Homo sapiens: one gene and its partner. The protein of the gene in region 1 purifies or fractionates together with the protein of each later gene. This does not show direct contact. Each region holds a gene or a part of one and is shown on either strand. Other genes may lie near its edges.

Evidence for each region. Proteins that work in one complex are often made in the same cells at the same time.
Region 2: the proteins of FAM78A (region 1) and ADD3 purify together in Homo sapiens (affinity purification with mass spectrometry; 3 studies listed by BioGRID and IntAct, with this or other methods). This does not show direct contact.

Annotation. Positions count from the first base shown.
Region 1 is NC_000009.12:131,273,503-131,280,814, forward strand, and holds the start of FAM78A (protein FAM78A), read right to left. Parts: upstream 3,009-7,312; 5' UTR 2,678-3,008; coding exon 2,355-2,677; intron 1-2,354.
Region 2 is NC_000010.11:110,003,853-110,010,983, reverse strand, and holds the start of ADD3 (gamma-adducin), read right to left. Parts: upstream 3,001-7,131; 5' UTR 2,685-3,000; exon of another isoform or gene 2,002-2,684; intron 1-2,001. UniProt on the Homo sapiens protein: Membrane-cytoskeleton-associated protein that promotes the assembly of the spectrin-actin network. Plays a role in actin filament capping. Binds to calmodulin.

The DNA of each region.
Region 1 (7,312 bases):
CAGAGAGAGAACAAGGAAAATGGCCTGGAGCCACTTTAAAACGCAAGTTCTTCATGCCTTACACTGCTTTAAAAAGTTTTAAACTCAGGAAGTGGGCCCTACGTGACAGAGAAAGACTCGGCCTGGGGAGAAAATTCACTACACGGTGTGGCTGACATCTGTCCTAATTCTGTAGTTTTAGCCACTCACATCTGATAGAATAACAGTAACAATCACAACACCGCTAAGGATGATCCCCATCCCATTACTGCCTGCGGTAAGTATTCACCACCAGCTTGGCGCAGGGCTGACTGCATGGCGAATTTGGTTAGCTTGAGTGATTCTCACAATAAGCCATGGGGAAGGGGTTCTTGCCAGCCCCAGTTTGCAGATGTGTAAACTGAGGGTCAGAGCAGTAAAGGGACTTGCCTAGGGCCACATCCTGGAGAGTGGCAGAACCTGGCCTCCCGCCCAGATCTGCCTAAGAAGGCATGAGGCTCTTCCAACCAGGAAGCCAGGACTGCGACAGGGAGGGCAGGGTTGTCTCAGGTCCCAGTCTCAGGCCTAGCTCCAGCCACATCACCCACACCTACTCAGGGTCACCAGATGGAGAACAAGTCTTAGACAAGACATCGGAAGCCCATGTGCACAGATGGGGAAGCTGAGGCTTGGAGTCTGTACCTTGGGTCAGGCCTGTGGCCTCCCCACCACACGTTGCACCAACCACATTAGCATCCAGTCCCGTGAGTGCTCATGTCTTTCCAAGTTCAGAAGAACCCACTGGCTTCCTTACCCCTTCCAGGGAAGAAACTAGGCTTAGCCCAAAACCCCGAGGAAAACTTTTGTTTCTACAACTGTCCCGATGCCTTCAAAGCCCGAGGAGGTTTCTGGGCTTAAGCGTTCTTAGAAAAGGTCCTCACTGCATAACTAAGAATCATGTTTCCCTGCTTAGAACAGAAAGGCAGCACCCCCTCCCCCGAACTGGATTACTAGCTGCTCTTGAGACACAAAGGGGTTGGCACAGAAATCAGGCTGGTGGAGAGGGCCGGTGAGAGCCTCTAGATGTGCCCCCCATGTACCTCTTTGGGACAGTCACTGTCACACGCTGGACTTAAGGGTTACTGTGATCCTCATGTTTCCTTTAGAACTTTGGAGTCATTAAGTAGAGAAGCCACCAGACTTGGTGTCCCGCCATCCTCCACCCCTCTCATTTACAGGTGGCCCATGAGATTCTTAAATCTGTGATAAGTTCCAGCTCCTGGGGAAATTCTCCTCTTTTCCCCACTTGCAAAACGGGGACGTGAAGCTGCACAGGGTAGACACTGAGAGAGGCTCTGGGAGTGTCAGCGGCCAGTCACGGGGCCACAGGGTAGACACTGAGAGAGGTTCTGGGAGTGTCAGCGGCCAGTCACGGGGCCGCATGGGTGGGCTGCCCGCCGGGGCCTGCCTAGCTCTCTCCAAAGGGTCCTTACGCTCAGAAACAGCTATTTTCACCATCCCTGTCTTAGGGTGAACCTTCAGATTAAGTCACTCTCCCAACTCTGCCTAAATGCAGCTCTTTTCACCCTGGGGACGGCCTTCTCTGGGGTCAGGAAGCAGGCCAGGAAAGGAGCCCCAGGGTCCCAGGGTCCTCACCGGGACCCCCAATACCCTAGGCACACTCTGGAGACCGGGCTTTGGGGCTGCAGAGGAGAGGCTCCTCTTTGCTGTTCCTGTTAGGGCCTCGCCAGAGGGACACTGGACTTGTCTGCATAAAGCGGTCTTCTGCCTTGGAGACAGAAAGCGATACACTGTGAAGAAATCGGGCTTCTAAAACTAACTGTGCTCTCAAACACAGTGCCGTTTGGAACGGGGAAGCACTCCCCCAGCTCCTGGCATACACTGGTAAAAGCCAGAAAGATAATTGAGGCCCAATCGCAAAGCCCTGAACACACCGGTCTGGGAGTTGCAGAGTGCCTGAATGTCTGCCATGGGCCCGCACAGGGCCAGAGGCCTGGAGGGCAGCCCTGCAGCCTCTCTGGTGACCCCTGATGGCACAGACACTCCTCAGGCGGACGGCACACTTGCTCTGCCAGGAAACACTGGGAGTAATGTCTCTCTGCTTTCTCGGCATCTTGCAGGGAAGGACACAGGAACCCGGGGGGAACAGTGGCAGGGTAGATTGCAGGACCGTGACTCCAATCTGGATCCACAGGCAAACTTTTCAGGGAGCCACCGGGCCAATGAGGCCACCTGCATACCTGCCTAAAGCTTCCCTCTGGCCTCCGTCCTGTCTTCATGGTATCTCCACCTTCCCCCTATCCGCGGCCCCCCACCAGGCCTCCAAGCTCGGCCATCCCTAGCAGTTCCCAGAGCTGGCTCTCGGCCGTACTCACATGCCCTGCTCGCCGTACTGGTTGTAGAACTCCATGTGGCTGCACGCCTGGATCCAGCCAACTACCCAAGTCTCCTTCTTGGGGATGGGCGGCATGACCACCTGGGCCGAGGCCCGGAAGTGGGGTGTCCGGTAGCGGAGCACCACGCTGGAGGACTCATCGATGCTAGTGGGGACGGGGTCGATGGAGGCTTTCACATCAATCACCGTGATCCCTTCCCGGAAGACTCTGGCTTTGCCTCCGATGCTCTGAATACAGCCCATGGCATACAGGAGCGCTCTGATCTCCAGGGAAGGCCAGCAGTCACAGAAAAAACCAGGCATTGAAAGGACAGAGGCTGCAGGACCCAGTACAGACGGCGCTGCTCTCCAATCTCAACTCTCAAGACCGATATCCATAGGATAGAAAACTCACTGAGTAGACTGGGGTTGCATATATCACTACCGCGGCCTGTTTATAAATAAGGATTCTGCTGCATTTCATGAGCCCTGGGCTCTCTCTTCTTCTCCTCGCAGTGGACAAAAATCACCGATATTCTTTGGGTTAAAAAAAGTTTGTAGTTTAATGAATAATTATGCGGTTCTGACATCCAGCCCTTCTGTGCCTCACACGCGGGGACGGCAGCTCGCAGACTCTCCCTGAAGTCTTCGGAGGAAGCAGGCGAGCGCCGGCAGACTCATAAATAAGGAAGGCTCTGTCCCCGCGCGGCCGCGCCACCCTCGCGGCAGAAGCCTGACTTCCTGCCCTCCGGCCTTCCGCACGCGCTCCCTCCGGGCCCCGCACCCGCACCCGCCCGGCGCGGTCGAATCAATTGCAGAGCAGTTTGTGTTCACCCGGCCGAGGTCCCGGCGCCCTCGGGGCGAGCGCCGACCCGCGGCTTCCAGGAGGCGAGCTCAGGGCTCCGGCCGCTCGCCGGTGACGGGGGAGCGCGGCGCGGGTCCCCGTCGGCGCCCACTCGCGGGCGCGGGCCGGACGTCCCCACGCAGGGGCGCCGCGTCCCTTCGCCGCTGTCGCTGCCGGCCGCCGTGCAGGGTCCCGGGGCTGCGCTCCGGCCGCCGCCGCCTGCTTCGCCGCGGCCGCCGAGGACCTGGTGGGAGGTGGAAGGGACAGCGCGTCAAGGCCAGCCTCAAAGTTAAGCCGAACTTTGCTGCGGGGGGCGCGCGGGGGCGGCGACGCGTGTGCGCTGGGCGCGGGCTGCGGAGCTGACGGCGCAGCTCTGGGCGGTCTCCCCGGAGGCGGTGGCCCCCGCCCCCCGCGCCCGCCCCGTCAGTGGCGGCCGCACGACCGCGCGCACCAGCGAATAATAGCCGCCCGTGACATCTCCGCTGATACCGTCCCGGACGGGCGGGGTGGGGGGCGAGCGGCTGCCGCTGCAGGGGGCGGCGAGCACTTGCCCTGCTCTGTCCCCACCGCCGCGCCGCCAGCGCCAGGTGCCCCTTCCCCACCCCGGTCCCTCCGGCTCCCTGGGCGCAGGGCCACCCACCAGTGCCGTCGGATCCGGCGGGCACCCCTTTCCCGGCTGGGGTCCCTCGGCCCTCGGAGGGCATAGTGCCCCCGCTCCGCCGCGTCAAGCGCCTCTGTCGCCCCTCTCCAGCCGCGAGCAGCCCCGGGTCCCCACGCGTCGGGCGCGCTCGCCGCTGCCGGGGAACTTTGGCGCGCACGCCCCCACTCGGGCGGCGCCGCCGACTCACCTGCCCCGGGGGCCACTCCGCTGGCCCGGGCAGCCGCTCTCCGGACGCCCCTGACCCGGCCGCGGGCACGTTCTTGGGGCGCCCCCACCCCCTTCCCCGGGCACTGTCCCTTGGCTCTACTGGAGTCTGGGGCCGGCGTGGGCGCCCCCGGCCCCCACCCTCCTCCCGGCTTGGGGCTTCGGGGGGGCGGCCGGGGGCGGAGGGCTGAGGCTCGGGGCTCTCTCGCCCCCACCCCGCGCGCCTCCTTTATTTTATGATCATTGTGAGCGCGCTGTCGCCGCTCAGCCCCGCCGCCGCGCCGCTGCCGCCTGGCGCGCCCCGCGCTGCCTCGCTCTGCTGCAGCATCGGAAAGGCAACCGGGTCAAACTTTGCAGAAACTCGGCCCCTGCGCCGGCCCGGCCCCCGCGTCCGCTCGCCGCCGCCGCCGGCCGAGCGCAGCCGGCGCACGCAGGGACCGCCGCCCGCTCGCCGGCCCCGCGGGGATGCAGGTCCGCAGGCGGCGGCGGCGGCGGCGGGCGGGCGCCGCCTCCTCCTCCCCGCCCGCCTGGCTCTCCACCCTCGCTCCCCGCACACAGCCCGCCCTCCCCCTGGTAATCCCTCGCTCCCCCTCGCTCCCTGTCTCTGCAGCTGCTCGGGGAGCTGAGCCTCTCCTTGAACAAACGACATTTCCTTTTTGGCCAGCCCCGGGAATTCTGGGTAGTGTAGTTCCGCTGCTGTCTCGGGGCCAGGTGGGCTGCTCCCAGTGCCCTTTGAACTCTATGGACCAGAGGCTTTCTGGGGTTCGGAGCACCCGCAGAAGGGCTCCCTTGCCCTGGGGTTCCTGACCGCAGGGAGACAGTGGCTTGGTGGAGACAGCGCGGGGGCTTTGTAGGCTCCAAGGCTGGGAAGGTCGCGGGGAGGGGAGAGCAGTTTGGGGAGAGGTGGGTCCCCTCGAGCAGGTCTGCTGGCTGCCTGTTGGACCCCGGCTGTGTGATGAGCGCTGTACAGAGCATCATTTCAGCCACCATCGGCCTCCCTGTGGAGGGAGACTGATGATGTGCACTTCACAGAGCAGGCACCCAGAGCTGAGAGGCTAGGGGATTTGCCCAAGGTCCTTCCCCCCGTCCCCCCGCAGGGGTCCCAGTGCAGGGGCTCAAAAGGAGCATGAGGCTGTACAGCCATGGGAGAGCTATGAACCCCACCCCTACCTTCCAGCCAGCCGTAGGGAAAGCCCAAGCAATTTGTGACATAAGTACATCTGGCAGCTACATTAAAGCCACGCTCTTCGTCCCCACCCCATCCCCATGACTCTGACTTCCACAGGTGCCCACAGCCGGCACAGGGCAGGTGCTTCCAGCCAGTCCCAGAGCCGGAGCACGCTGAGTGTGTGAGGGCAGGGCTGGAGGGACCGAGGGGCTGGCCACTCTTGGATCTCTCCTTTGAGGGGTTAACAACCAGGACATCTCACAGCAGCACCGGCTCAGCCATGGAGCAGGAAGTGGCTGGCTAGGGTGGCCTCCGCCTCTCACCCAGCCACACCCTCACCCCAGCACTGCTATGGCCCGTATCCCCAGCTAATGAGGAGGTGGTCCCTTTCCAGTTCAGCTAGTAGGTGGCTTATTCCTAGTCCCACTGACTCGGGCCAAGGCAGGGCCACAGAGATGGCCCCCTTGGCCTGTTGGACACAGTAGAACCCCAGACAGCACACAGATTACATCAGGGCTCTACATAAATGTCCATTTCCAGGAAGAAGTCTTCTCTGGCCTCTTCACCATGTGAAATGGCCTCTCCCTTCCATGAACTAATGGCCCCCACAAAACCTTCTGTCCCTCTGACAGTCACAGGGCCTTCTGCACCTCTTGTGCCATCAGATAATTACTGCACTACCCAGTTTATATGTAGGGACGATATTCACTTTTGAGATGTCTGTTTCATTTCCCGACTCTCATCACCCCGACAGCCTGGCCAGGGTGCTCTGTGAGGGTAGGAATGCTATCCTGGAAATGAGGTGACAAGTTCAAGTGCTCAATGAACAGGGCCAGAGCTGCACGTCCCTCTCGTGGAAAGGACAGGGACCAGAGCCCTGAACCGCCTTGTGAGCAGTGAAGCTGCTGGAGGTGATTTCCCGGGGGTGGGCTCTCTTCAAGGCCAGCTGGGAGTGACAGTGCCCCGCCCCCTCCGTCCTGGGCTCCGCCTGGGTTTGTAAAGCACCCACTGTGTGTCAGGCGTTACATTGAGCAGGCACTGTCTCTTCTATCCTTGACCTTAGCCCTAGGCAGTGGGCTCCACAGATAGAGAAACCCAAAAACCCAGGGATCAGGGGATAGAGACTTCTCAGAGGCTGGATGCCAGCTCCGATCTGACCAGCTCCAAAGCCCACATTCAGCTTCTTCACCAAGCACACCCCACTTGCTAGCCAGGGCCAGCCCCTCAGAACTAGGATGGGACTGATCACTAGGAAGTCCTACCAGCAGAGGTGTGTGGGCGCCCACATGGTGAGGACTTGCAAAGTAGAAGACCCCTCTCCCTTAACCTGCTCCCCCTTGACATCACCCCTGCACAGGATGTCATCTCAGTCTGCAGGAGAAGGGACCAGGAAGCATCAGTCCATGGGCCTGTTTGCCGGCTTTGAGCTGGGGGGCAGCTCTGCCAGGCAGAGGGTGTGAATGGGCTCGGCTCCTGCATGCACTCCCTGCCCTGGCTTCTGAAGCGCCCACCAGGGTTCTGGTGGCTTCCCCAGCTCGCGGCCCCTCCGGCCCTGCCGCTTCCCTACACAGCCCTTCCTCCTGCTCGTCATTTTCCGGAGCTCCGTGGGTGTTGGGCACAGACCCACGGCAGCCTCAGCATATGTGGAAGGCTCATGACGCATCCACGCGCGTGTGAAGTGCCGGTGTCTGCAGAGCAGAGGAAGGGGACATCTGTTTGAGTCATTGCCCAACAGCACAGGGCACTCCCATTGCTCTCAGGACCCTTTCCCCTCCCCCAGGCCTCAGGCTCCCTGGACTCTGAAAAATGAGAAAGAGGAGGGGTGGGGAGACACGGCCCCATCCCCCACCCGGGATGGTGAACACTGGGATGGCCACTTGGGAGCTCAAAGTGTTGTCAGTGGGAGGACAAGGTCCTCAATTCCTGGCACATTGGCCCAGAGAAGTCATGAAAACCCAAAGCCACACAGCAAGTCAGAAGTAGAAACAACACTGACCCTGCCAAGCTGCAGGGACCTGGGAAGTCTTTGGAAAAGAGACTGCTGCAGTGTCTCCTTGCAGGCATCACCGTGAGCTGGGGCTT
Region 2 (7,131 bases), on another chromosome or scaffold:
CAAAAGGTGACTGTATTTAATGCGGATTAACCACCACTCCTTAGATTTAAGCATAACTTGGTGGTATTAATACCAGAGGATGTGGTTAAACAAGACATGTGCACCTGATAGTCGTGGGAATACTATGAAGACCTCTCACTGGTTTGCAGTAATTACCATGAGCTCAATAGCAACAAGGGGCAGTGGTTACATGGGCTCACTCTTGGGCCAGACTCTGGCTTCAGAACCAACCTGTGTCACCTTGGGAAGATACTTAACCTCTCCATGCCTCTGTTTAGCCACTGGGTTGTTGGAAGGACTAAGTAAATTAAATCATATAAAACTCTTAGTGCCTGGCACAGAGGTTAGGCAAATAAATATTGGCTATTACAAATATTTGCTGAGTCTTCACATGCTGGGTAGCATGACCTAACAGCCTTCAAAAAGATATGTCACTTTACATACTGATAATGATAAACACAAAAAGCACTGAATACAAACCCCATTCTAAGCACTTTACATATAACAACTCGGTTAAGCTAAAGTTCTGATGTGACTGTTCCCCAACACGCTACACAGTTTGTTCAGAGCCAGGTTTCTATGCTTTTATGTGATTTCTTCCCTCAAACACTTCTTATACTCTGATGACATGCATACATGCCACCCAGTACTGCTAACCAACTGCTTTGAAATGGGAGAGATTAACCAGCTAACCACCTGTAGGCTTACATGTGACAAAAGCACTCAGACATGATAGGCCTACTTCAGGAAGCCTCAAAACCTCAGAAGTTGGGCACCACCCTGTATCTAGGTTTTAGGATTGTGTGTAGGAGTTGGGCTGTTGCTGATGTTATGTTCTCTTGGTCTCAAAAGACATTCTGGTTTTACAAAGGCCAGATCTACACTTTAAACATAATTAGGCAGAATTCACATTCATGCCAGCATAATATTGAAGAAAGGGGTGAGACAGCAAAGTGTGTAATTTTCTCCCTTTCAGTCAATGCTTGAAACTTACATTACGAAAATACTATCCTTCTATCATGCAAAATATTTCCCAAGTGTCATATGATCAACTATGTCAAATGTTCACCAAACATTTCCTGATATCATATATGTAAAATGTAGCAATACATTGAATGTCTCATAACCAACTATCTCAAGAACTCCTTCAAATTATGTTTAACATTCAAAATAGATACACCCGTTTCTTCTTTAAAAACTATTACCAACATGCCAGCACTTCTGGGCACCTTAAGTGTTATCACAGACTGAACTCTTCAGAAAGATGAAGAGTTAAATGTAGCTGCCTTTATTTTATCCTGGTCCTCCTTCCATAAAGTTAATCTGCTCCATTTAAGCAAAGGAAAATAAGTTATAATGCAAGTACAATATAATGGAGACTTCGATATAAAAACTTTCTACAAATGCTCCATTTATAATGTTCCAGTTATTTATAGGGTTAAGTAACTTAACCCTATAAATGGGTTGGTCCCATAACTTAATTACACAAATATTTTTAACAGTCAAGTATTTAACTTGAAAACGACAAATTGCACTGTACTCTTATTTTTTCAATCTTTAAAAACACTCTCACTAGGAGTCTTCTAAAGCCAAAATTAGGAACGTACCCTGCACTATGTAGTCAGAAGCCATTCCAAGAAAAGCAACCATTTAATACTGCTAAATCTAAAATGCTACATAATTTAACGTAAACTTGCACGCACGTGTATGTAGCTAGTCCCATACCCCAGAATCTTATCAATTCCTTCCCCAAACTTGCATATAATCCTCCCTCAAAGCCTCTTGGCTAAGTTAAATTCCTTAACACTCTACCAGGTTAATTGCAACAGCACATGTGCCAAGGAAATTAGTGGTTTTCCTTGCGCTCCCATTTTCAACCGGCACCTACTTGCAATTAAATCTCTGCAACAAAAAAGTTCACCTGAAGCCGTTCTTGCCATTTTAAAAGAGGCCCAGATTATGCTACCTGTCTGTGGTCTTGCCTAAGCTATAATAGCCTACCTCCAAAGAGGCTGGACGTGCCCCAAACACCAGCACACCAGACCTGCTGCCAACTTCGCTTGTCACCCCTAGCAGGAAGCTCAACCTAACATGTATACGTTTGTAGGGGCGGTGTGTTTGTGTGTGTCTGTGTTGGGGGGTGGGGAAGCGGATTATAGGAGAAAGGTGACTGAACACTTTCAACTTGTAACAAAAAAAATTTTTTTTAAATGAGGAGAAAAACAACTAAAACCAACATTCGCTCCCTTTCCTCCACCTTTTCTAAGCGCAGGAACCTCTCACTCCCCTGGAGCGCACCTTCAGGGCTTAAGGTCCCCGGGGTCACCTAAGCTTCAGCCAGTAACTGATTTTGGTACTCCCCGCCTTCCTAGGGAAAACCAGCAGACGCGCGAAGCGTCGGGCCCACCCGGCGGCGCCGCAGGCCGTGCACCGCCACCCCCGGACCCTCCCCCGCAGGTACGCTCCCCTCTGGCCTGGCCGTGGTCCCCACTCCCGCCCCGGAAAAGGGTTCACCTGAGGCCGCAGGGACAGCCAATGAGAAGTCCCCTTGGCCCCGCCAGCCGCCGCTCCCTACCCCCGCGCGACCCCCAGTAGCGTCCCCAGTGCTAGCCCCCGCGCGGGTGCCCGCGTCCCGGCCCGGAAGAGAGGCGGGACGACGGCGCGTCCTCTCCCCGCAAGATTACCTCGCAGCGCGTAGCCGGCTTTGTGTTTCCCCTCCCTCCTTCTCGGCAGCCGCCCGGGCTGCAGCAGCCGCCGGATCCGCCGCTGCGGCCGCCTCTTAAGCGCCGCAGAGCCCCAGAGGGTAGGGCGGGAGAAGGGGAGGGGGCTTGAGGAGGGAGGGACCTGTACGCCGAGCCCTGTGCAGCAGGAAGCGGCGACACCTGGGATGCCGACGCCTCTGGCGCTTGCTCTGTGTTTTAAAAAATCTAATTTAAACCCCTCTTCTTTCCCTCCCGCCCCTCACACTGGCGACCGTTACGGGCTGGCGGCTCGCGCTCTGGCGGGACTAGCCGAGCGCCCCTCGAGCGTCCCTTGGTCCCGCCCCCTAACGCCCCGCCCCTAGGTCCCCAAGCGCCCCCCCCGGTCACGCCCCCAAGGTCCGCCCCTCGCAGCCCCCTACGCCTCTGGCCCCGCCTCTTGGGCTCCGAAGCCTCCCGGCCCCGCCTCCTCAAGACCTCGCCTCTGGCAGCCCCGAGCTCTCTCTGGCCCCGCCCCGAGCGCCCCTCGGGAGTCCTGGTCCCGCCCCCGCAGCCCCCTCCGCGCCCTCAAGCTCTAAGTCCGTGAAGCCGCAGCGGTGGGGGCCTGCAGGCCCGGCAGCCGGGAGGGCCTGGTTCGGGGCGGCTGCCTGGCGCCTTTTCAACGTCCTCTTCTGACTGTGCAGCTCGAATCCGCGGCGTCCCCGGAGGGCCAGAGGGGGAAACGACCCCGATAGAAACCCGACCGCGAAGGGGAGGAGGGGCGCCTCGGAAATGTCTCCCGCCCTAAATGAGCGAGCCCCCTACTCCTACTCCCGAGGCTGAGCCGCCGCTTTGAGTCAGCCTCGGCCGCCCACGCTGGCTGCTGGGGCTGTAGGAGGCCACTGCAAAGGTTCAACCTCCGCACGCCCCCCGTGGGGCCTGGACTTTGCTCTCAGCACAGCTGCCTTCGCGGGCGCCTAGTCCCCACAACCCCTGCTTCACCTCCACATAGGGGGAGGACAGGGGCTCTCGCTTCTGCTTCATTTGGACCCCTCGAGAGTCTTCACTCCCGCTTTGGCTCCCGGCCTCTGAACCTTATGAGAGCTCACTTCTTTGAGGCGAAAAGTCGAGGCATCGCCAAGAACCTTCAAAATGAATGCGGGGCCGGGCAAACTTTGCAACACGCAATTGCAGGGCTGTGGATCCATCCACAGGTGACACCGGGCCTCCCACCCCCCTCGCCCAGACATGTTTCTCATCCCAACCTATTCTTGAAATAGACCTCCCAGCGGTGCACACTTTTCTCTGCCACCCACGACTTCCACGTCCCTCCTGCACCAGTACACTTGCAAGCACACCCCTCCGAGCGCCATTCTAATGATTCATGGTCCCTTGGGCCAACCCCACCCTAACACACACAACAAACTTCGTTCCCCACCCTTATCCCCCTTCGTTTCCAAGGCACTGGCGACAATCCACTTCATTTCCTTTCCTCATCTGCAGACTCGTCCCCCTCAAATACCTCACGCCATCCGCCTCATCTTCATCCCCCCCCTCCTCCCTAAAAATGTGCTAATTAAAATGTAGTTTCCTCTTCCCACATATGAAGTGTGGAAAATGAATCTTGTCTTGACACAAACTGTGATGCATTTATCGTTTTCTCTCTCCACTGGACTAAGGCTGTAGAAATTTTAGTCTACCACCATCTCCCATTTGCTCAAAAAATCCAACCATGCCTTATTATTTTTAAATACTCTTAACGAATCGTGGGGAAGGCTGCCTAGTTTGAGGAAGAAAATTGTTTAGAAAATGCTCAGCCTGACATTTTATTTGGTATTTAAAAATATCTGCAGTATTTGAGAGAGATATTGGGAGTGGCTGGATATTTTCTTGCATTTAAAAAGCAAAAAAATGAAAAGCTTTGCATGCATCAAGGTTAGCCTTTTTATGAATAGCAAAAAAAGTATCCTAAGGGCACCTATCAGAATATAGTCCTCACTATATTTTGCTAGTCGCAAATCTGGACACCCCCACCACCACCAAAGGAAGACAAATTAACATAATCCATTTTAAGCATGTCTGATGAACAGTCTTTTCCATGATCATTCCTTTTCTCACAGTTTCTGGACAAAATAGCTAGATAGATCTCCTTACCCACCGAAGATCCAAAGCTTCCTTCTAACAAGGGTAGTAGACGTACGTGTCTGTGTCTTCTGTTCTCTAGGTGTGGATTCTGCAATGCTGCACAGAAACCTACTGCAGCCTCAGACCAACAGCAGCAGCAGCAGCGGCGGCGGCGGCAGCAGCAGCAGCAGCATTAGCAGCAGCAGCTTCTCTCAATGCTGAGTAGTAAGTGTTTGACTTAGTAAACTCTACAATTACCATTAGGCGCTTGCTTATGAGAGGAGGCGGAATCTTTCTTAAAGGAATGGGTTTTGTTTTTCCTCTCTAGTATTGCTTCATAAGAGGCAGAGAGGATGGAATCAGGGAGTTTTGTGGACTGAGTAAATGAGTACAGCTGTGGGAGGTCAAGGTTAAAATTAACTGGGTGGTTGAGGAATGGAGGCAATGATTTTAGTGTAAGTCAATGAAATGCTAGAAGCACCAGTTTTAAAGAGCCCTGCTAATTTCAAACATTGGGGTAATGGCAAAATAAAGTTGTATGCCTTGAAACTGATTAGTAATTTGTGCTAATATTTAATTTAATTTAATATTTGTGCTAATATTCAACATCGTACTAAAATAATAACTATATAAAGGAAAGCTATTTAGTATTTAATATAAGAATAAAAAGAAAAATGAATTAAAACTCGTTTATGTGACTAGAAGCAATGGATTCAAGTCCTACCTATAAGCATACTTGGAACTTCAGTGAATACCAGTATTAGAAAATATATTGTTGACAGGTTTCAATGTGTGCTCATGTGATATAAAAAATCACAATATTGCCGGGCGTGGTGGCTCACGCCTGTAATCCCAGCACTTTGGGAGGCTGAGGCAGGTAGATCACGAGGTCAGGAGTTCAAGACCAGCCTGGCCAAGATGGTGAAATCCCGTCTCTACTAAAAATACAAAAATTAGCCGGGCGTGGTGGCAGGCGCCTGTAATCCCAGCTACTTAGGAGGCTGAGGCAGAGAATTGCTTGAACCCGGGAGGCGGAGCTTGCAGTGAGCCAAGATCGCGCCACTGCACTCCAGCCTGGGTGACAGAGCAAGACTCCATCTCAAAAAAAAATAAAATAAAATTACAGTATTATGTATAGAAAAAACAAAATATATCTAAAATAATTTTTGGATAATAGCACAGTATTAATGCTATTTCAGTGGCAATTCAAAGGTCAGCAAAATTAAGAAACACAAGTGGATTGACTGACTCTAAGTGCATATGAATCTGCTATTTACACTATTAAAATGTGTCGTGTCCACCTGAGAATCTGCATTATAACCTTACATTTTATCTTTATATTACTTGATTTAAGCACTTACCAGTTATGTTTTTTTCTCTATAAGTAAATGAAGAGGTGTGATCTCAAAATATGAATAGAAAGAAATAAAGGAAATATTCTGCCTTTAATTTTCTTTGCACAGCTTTTGTTAATGATGTACCTGTGTGATCTTGAACAAGTAAATAACCTTATTTGGTTCTTAGTTCCCTATTTTGTAAAGTGAGGAAGTTGGATTGAAATTTCCCAGGGTCTGGCCGGTCATGGTGGCTCATGCCTGTAATCCCAGCACTTTGGGAGGCTGAGGCAGGCAGGTCACGAGGTCAAGAGATCAAGACCATCCTGGCCAACATGGTGAAACCCTGTCTCTACTAAAAATACAAAAATTAGTCGACTCACTGCAATCTCTGCCTGCCAGGTTCAGGCGATTCTCCTGCCTCAGCCTGGGACTACAGGCGCATGCCACCACACCCAGCTAATTTTATGTATTTTTAGTAGAGACAGGGTTTCACAGTGTTAGCCAGGATGGTCTCGATCTCCTGACCTTGTGATCCGCCTGTCTCGGCCTCCCAAAGTGCTGGGATTACAGGCGTGAGCCACCGCACCCGGCCTCAATTTTTTTTTTTAATGCCTCCTACAGGGAGAGAATTAAAAGAAATTAGTTGCCCAGTTTCCTTCATCTGTTTTTGTTTTCCTTGCTTCTCTGCAAGGAGGGCTTTTTATTTCATCTACCAGGTAGTATTGAACAATGAATAAAATGGTGATTATTTGTATAATTCAAAGCATTCCCCCACATCCCCTCCCCGCAAATTGAATGCATTTCTTTACCTCTTCCCAAAGTGCTCAGCACAGTCTCTTATATAAAGGCACTTAACGGATACTTTAAAAAATGAATACACGATTTAATGAATGAATTGCTCCCAACATATCCAGAAACTGACTACAAAGTGTTTTTGTTTGTTTTTAATTTGCATTGTCCAAAACAACTGACTCCATTCTCTACCTCCCTTT